Linked DNA regions of Homo sapiens. The protein of the gene in region 1 purifies or fractionates together with the protein of each later gene. This does not show direct contact. Each region holds a gene or a part of one and is shown in the gene's direction. Other genes may lie near its edges.

What was found. Proteins that work in one complex are often made in the same cells at the same time.
Region 2: the proteins of CAMK1D (region 1) and MUC7 purify together in Homo sapiens (affinity purification with mass spectrometry; 3 studies listed by BioGRID and IntAct, with this or other methods). This does not show direct contact.

What each region holds. Positions count from the first base shown.
Region 1 is NC_000010.11:12,352,547-12,356,046, forward strand, and holds part of CAMK1D (calcium/calmodulin-dependent protein kinase type 1D), read left to right. Parts: intron 1-3,500. UniProt on the Homo sapiens protein: Calcium/calmodulin-dependent protein kinase that operates in the calcium-triggered CaMKK-CaMK1 signaling cascade and, upon calcium influx, activates CREB-dependent gene transcription, regulates calcium-mediated granulocyte function and respiratory burst and promotes basal dendritic growth of hippocampal neurons.
Region 2 is NC_000004.12:70,475,197-70,478,696, forward strand, and holds part of MUC7 (mucin-7 precursor), read left to right. Parts: intron 1-3,500. UniProt on the Homo sapiens protein: May function in a protective capacity by promoting the clearance of bacteria in the oral cavity and aiding in mastication, speech, and swallowing. Binds P.aeruginosa pili.

The sequences.
Region 1 (3,500 bases):
TTCAGTGAGTTGAGATTGCGCCACTGCCCTCCAGCCTGGGCCACAGAGTGAGACTCGGTCTCAAAAAAATAAAATAAAATAAATGAGAAAACATAATGATGGCAATAATGATAGCATAATGTTATCTAAACTTGGAAAACTTGGAAGCATTTCAGAGCTTTTGGATTGTCGTCCTTTTGCTTCTGTGGACTTTCTTTTTTTTTTTTTTGAGACGGAGTCTCACTCTGTTGCCCAGGCTGGAGTGCAGTGGCGCAATCTCGGCTCACTGCAAGCTCTGCCTCATGGGTTCACGCCATTCTCCTGTCTCAGCCTCCCGAGTAACTGGGACTACAGACGCCCGCCGCCATGCCTGGCTAATTTTTTTGTATTTTTAGTAGAGACGGGGTTTCACCGTGTTAGCCAGGATGGTCTCGATCTCCTGACCTCATGATCCGCCTGCCTCGGCCTCCCAAAGTGCTGGGATTACAGGCGTGAGCTACTGCGCCCAGCCGCCTCTGTGTACTTTCTAGAAGTGGTCCCCAGTTCAAGATGCCTGCTCCACCCTGGGCCATGACCGGTGACTCTGGCCCGAGTCTTAATGTGGAGTTGACTTCTGGTCCCTTCAGTGGGGATTTTGAGTCTGGGCCCTTCTCTTGTTTTGAATGAAATCTAACACAAATGAAAGGCATCGACAATTAACCACTGGCATTCATTTCCAAAGTATGCCGCAGTTCCAGTCACTTTGTTTGCCCTACTTTCTCCCTACGTCTTTAAGATACGAAGGCAGGAAAGCCTTGTAAGAAGCAGGGCTGTCAGCTCACAATGTTCACATGTATTTAAAATAAAGCATTGCAAAGGCTGGAGGAGCACTCATTTTGCCAGACTTTGTAATCTGATATCCACTGCCTTATCCAGGTATCTCACCTCATGGAGCCGAGCATTTACTGTTGGAAGCTAAGGGGTCAAGGCGGTTAGGCTGTATGGTTAGAGGGACCTTGCTGGAGAGTGGGGGCCGAATGGGAGTGAAGGTTGGCCCAGGAGGGTGGAAAATGAGATTGAGGAAGCAAAGAGCAGCATAAGAGAAAGGACTGGGCTTTGTGGTCTGGCCTGGGTTGTCTGATGCACCTCTGAGTCAGGTCTCAGGGACAAACCTTTCAACCTGTGCGCTTCAGTGCAGCCTCCTACAAAAGGGAATCCCAGAACATAACCATATCTCTGAATAAGGTGGTGAGACTTAATTATTGTCTATTAATCAACATGTTTTCAGACCCTTGGCACACTATGAGAACAAATAAATGTTATGTAATGGCAAATTAGGAGGGGTACACATTTCTGTTGGTGTATTTGCCAAGGCTGTTCAGGCCGTCCCTATCGTAGCTATCTTTCAGTGACTACTGAAGCAAAAAATAAAAAAACCCCTAAAATACTATTCGGAGAAGTATATGGATGGGAGGAAAGCTTCGGTGTGGTGTCTAGGAAGCACCCTAGACTCATAGAAGTCACTTCTGCAATTTCCAGGCTGTGAAATGTATGTGAATGGAAAGGCCTGGGTACTTGGCACGTGGCAGAATGAGTCTCCCAACAAACCTCATTTCCCCTGGAGTACAGAACATGGCATGCCCTAGAAAATGGATCTTCATCTCCGCGGGATATGAATGCATGTTTTTCGTGTAGACTGAGCATTTGAAGTTGAAGTTGTTCCTGTCTGTAGATGGCTGGACAAGGCATCGTGGAGGATTTGAGACTGGGTTTTAGGTCTGGTTCAGCCATGAGGGGTTTTGTGGCCTGTGGACTGCTTGGACATTGACCTACATTACCTTCTCCCTGTCTCAGTTTCTTCATCTATAAAATCAAGGCAGGTTGGGGGTGGGGAACAGGGAACATGAGATAATTTTCTTTTCTTTTCTTTTTTTTTTTTTGAGATAGAGTCTTGCTCTGTCACCAGGCTGGAGTGCAGTGGCGGGATCTCAGCTCACCGCAACCTCCGCCTCCCAGGTTCAAGCGATTCCCCTGCCTCAGCCTCCCAAGTAGCACCACCACACCCGGCTAATTTTTTTGTATTTTTTAGTAGAGACGGGATTTCACCATTTTGGCCAAGACGGTCTCGATCTCCTGACCTCGTGATCCGCCTGCCTCGGCCTCCCAAAGTGCTGGGATTACAGACGTGAGCCGCCGCGCCCAGCCGATGAGAAAATTTTCAAGTACCCTTGCAACCCTAAGATTCTGTGGCTCCCTGTGTAAGGAGGGCACTTGCTTTTGTTCCCGAGGGGCTTTCCTTGTGTGGCTAGGTGCAGCTCATTTCTGTTTGGAGGAAAATTTTTTTTTTTTTTTTTTGAGACAGAGCCTTGCTCTGTCACTCAGGCTGGAGTGCGGTGGTGCGATCATAGCTCACTGCAGCCTCACACTCCTGGGCTCAAGTGATTCTCCTTCCTGAACCTCCAGAGTAGCCAGGACTACAGGTGTGCACCACCATGCCTGGCTAACTTTTTTATTTTTTTGTAGAGACAGAGTTTTGCTGTGTTGCCCAGGCTGGTCTCAAACTCCTGGCCTCAAGTGATCCTCCTACTTTGGGCTCCCAAAGTGCTGGGATGACAGGCACGGGCCACTGCACTTAGCTCTGGAGGGACATTTTTGTGACTGTACTAGTAGCACAATAAGAGCTCAGGACCAGCACCCTGATCTCACTTTGTGTCAATAGCAGTGTGTCTCCTTTTTCATTAAATGAGTGCCTGCTGGATGCTGCTTTAGGAAGACTATAAATAGAAACTTCCGTGGGTCAAGCACCGTCTTTTCCCACTCATCTCACACTATGCTACTTATTCTGAAATTGCCCAATAAATACACCTATTAAGGACACAGATGATTGGTTTGTCTGAAAGTCCAGATGGAAAACAGACTCAACTTTTCTTTTTTGGTGTATATGTGTTTGTGTGTGCGTGTGTGTGTGTGTGCGCGCGCGTGCGTGTGTATGTGTGTGTGGTGGGGGAGAGAATGCACAAACACTCGAGGTGGTTTGTATATTTGACTGGTGAATTTCATAGTTGTTTTTCTGGGGTTACTTAGAATTTGAGAGTCCGTGAGAAGCATTAGGAAGAACATTACTGAGAAAAAAGGAGGGGTGGGAAGCCCCTAGACTTCTCCCCGAGGGTATCCCCGCTGCAGTCTTCTTTAGATGTTTGGATTCCCCAGTCCTCTTGTTTTGAGGCGTGATATAAATTCAGCCTCTCATACATTTAAAAATATCGGTTGAACACCTGCTATATTCTAGGCACCGAGGAGACGGCAGTGAGCAGACGAGAATGCCTGCTCTCCTGGAGCCACAGAAAATACAAGGGGCAAAGAAGGGAAAGGAACAGCACGTTAGAAGCTGCAGGTTAGGCAGGAACCAAGAGCCAAAGGGGATGTGTGGGGTGGGGTGATGGCAGCTTGAGGTGACGCTTGAATGCAGACCTGGAAAGAGCCATGGGGCTGTCTGAACGTAGACTCTTCCGGTCAAAGGCGGCCACAAGGGCAAGTGCCTG
Region 2 (3,500 bases), on another chromosome or scaffold:
CGAACCTGGGAGGCAGAGTTTGCAGTGAGCCGAGATTGCATCACTGCACTACAGCCTGGGTGACAGAGCAAGATTTTGTCTCAAAAGAAAAAAAAAGAAAGAAATGAACAAAAACGTTCTAGTTTGGGGCATGTTACATTTGAAATGGCTATTAGACTTCCACATCAAGATATCAAGAAAACAGTGGATATATGTTGTCTGGAGTTCAGAAAGAAATCTAGGGGTAAAGTCTATATTTAAAACATACTTGAAGCCATGAAACCTTACAACATTTTCACCTAGGGAGAAAATGTAGGAAGTTTAGATATGGATAGAGAAAATGGAGGACCCACAAGAGGGGACAGGAAAGGATGGCTTCCAAAACCAAGAGAAGACTACAAAGTGGACCTTCTATCTTTAAGAAATTTAGGGTGTACTGGCAAAGGAAGATTAAAATTAATAATGATATAATGTGATTACAAGGTGATACATGCTGTAATAATAACCATATTTTTCTCTCATGCTATGTACCTGCAAGTATTTATTAAATTTTATTTTGACAAAATTTCAAATAAGAATCAAGAAGTGGAATGTACTTTTTTATTGAATGAGGATGGATAGCCTCAGAATATTACGCCAGTAGAGTAGAGAGAGAGAGGGCAGAAGAACTGATGAAGTGGACGGAATTTACTCTTGGATATTCTCATATTTCTCACTTACCTTATAATATCCCCCAGAAAACAATCAGGCTTTTTCCCGGACCCTAATGCTGATTTCTGTGACTAGAAGAGTGTTCAAGCTGGGCTCAGAAGATGTGGGCTTAAACTCATCTCTAATGTTTACCATCCAGATGAATCTTGAGCAATTTAGAATCTATTTATAGGGCCCCAATTTCCCTATGTGTAAAATAATAACAACACTATATGCTTCACAGGGCTGCTGAAGGGTAAATGAGAATTTATAAATTATAAACTATAGTGTAGATATAAAAATTATGACAAGATTATTGTAATCTCAATTTACATACTAGTTGATAAGGCTTTAAGTTCTGAATATGCACAGTGATGTTAACTTTTTAATAAGTAAAGTTTTAATAAGGAATCCCTGGCTACCAACACCTCTATATTGAAAGAAATAATTTTCCAATCAACACAAGTCATGTTATTGTGAAATGATGAATCTGGGTTGTTCTTTTGAAGTGGCCTTTCATCATAACTCCCTCAAATCCAGACACCTAAAGAATCCTTTCTTCCAAGTGCTTAGAATAAATAAAACTCTTCAAGCTGCCCAAATCTCAAAAAAGTGCCTGGTGAGAGAAAGAGTTTCCAAAGAACTTGAATATGAGAAGGTAGCACAGAAATACCTTGACCTGATCCTTAGAAAATACAGGAATGTGAGGTCAGGAGTTCGAGACCAGCCTGGCCAACATGGTGAAACATCGTCTCTACTAAAAATACAAAAATTAGCTGGGCGTGGTGGCCCACACCTGTAATTGCAGCTACTTGGGAGGCTGATGGAGGAGAATCACTTGAACTTGGGAGGCAGAGGTTGCAGTGAGCCAAGATCGTGCCACTGCACTTCAGCCTGGGTGACAGAGCGAGACTCCGTCTCAAAAAAAATAAAAAGAAAAGAAAATACAGGAATGTACCGGAGATTAGCATTAACCCACAGCCAGAAAAGGTCAGTCCTGGAGCTCTAGCAACAACCTGCTTTTGTGGAGTGATTTCAGGGAGCAGATAGTCTGGCTTCTCTCTTCCAGATGTCCCAAAGAAAGACTTGAAGGGATGTATTCTGGAGTCAGATGAAGAGCTCTGTCAACTATAGCATTATTTAGCATAATGCTTTCATTCTCTTTAAAAAAGGATCACAGATTTTCAAATGGTCATAAAAATAAGCTGGTAGCAAATGAAGAAATGAATTGTGCTTTCTAATTTCAATTAAATGTAATCTTGGGCCGGGTGCCGTGGCTCACACCTGTAATTCCAGCACTTTCAGAGGCCGCGGCGGGAAGATCACCTGAGGTCAGGAGTTCAAGACCAGCCTGGCCAACATGGTGAAACCCCCATCTCTACTAAGAATACAAAAATTAGCCAGGCATGCAGTACACACCTGTAATTCCAGCTTCTAGGGAGGCTGAGGCAGGAGAATCCCTTGAACCCAGGAGACGTAGGTTGCAGTGAGCTGAGATCATGCCACTGCACTCCAACTGGGTGACAGAGTGAGACTCTGTCTCAAAATACAAAAGTAAAAAATGTAATCTTGGCCTTTCTGTCTTCTAATTCTCTCCCTTTCTGACTAATTTTCTCCTCCTCTTCCTTCCTCAGAGAATTTGGCATTCCTCTAGTTATTTTAGGAGTCTTCTGCTTTCTCATACCCTCCTTTCTTGCTGCAAGTGCCATGTGTCTCTCCTTCTCCTTCCCTTGACTCCAGCCTACTCTATCCTTGTTCCTCATGTCTTCTCCCTCTTCTCTGCTCTCAAAAGTACAGTTTGCAAATGGAGAAACATTCTCCTAAAAGTTACTTAGTCTGAGACTCAGTTTTCCCATCCATATAATGAAGATAATAACCGTACCCACCTTATGATATTACTAAGAAATTAAATAAATTTGTATTTGTAAACCACTCAGAATAGGGCCTAACATAAAGTGTTACATGAAGACTTTTTTAATAAAAATAAATAATGAATGTGAACAGGCAGGCAGGGTTGCTATCTTTAATACACCCTCCCTGGCATATCTATATTTATTATAAGGACCTCCATACTTCAGTCACCTAAACTCAAACTTTAGAGGCATGCATTTTCAACTCCTTCCTCTCTCAGACTTCTCTAAATCCAACTCTAGTCTACAATTTCTGTTATAACCACCTGTAACTGCCAATCATAATAACTAATCAATATATTAAGTAAATCAAACAAACTGGTCATTTGATACATGTTCCAGGCCAAGCTAACATTAAAATTAATAGGATTTTAATCAATTTGCCTTCATATAAAAATGTGGTAGGTATTATTTTGGTCACCTAAAGTAAAATAGCTGAAACTATTTTACATATGAATAAACACTTTTAAATGTTAATACTTTATTCAATAACAAATTAGTTATTGTTATCATTTCCATGCATTTACTCATTCAATTAATAGCTAATGAGTACCTGCCATATGCCAGGCATAGTTTTAGGTATTGGACTTACAGAGGTGAATCAAAGAGGGGCCTTCGTGAGGCTCATGTGATTAAGGGAATGAACCACATAACTATTTCAAAGCAAATAAAATTAGACTTTGGATCTGGAATTTAATTTAATCCAAATCATTTTATAAATGAATAAGCCGACATCCAGGCACATTAAGTGACTTGACCAAAGTCACTCAGCTATTCAGTGGCAGACACAGGACAGAGCCAAACCTCCACTGCTGGTCTGTTGCAGCATGTTTCATACATGTTCCTATAAGATCTGGACATTCTTTGCAACATCCTCAGAGACCATCTGGAAAGGGAAAGACCGAGATCATGGAATGTGAG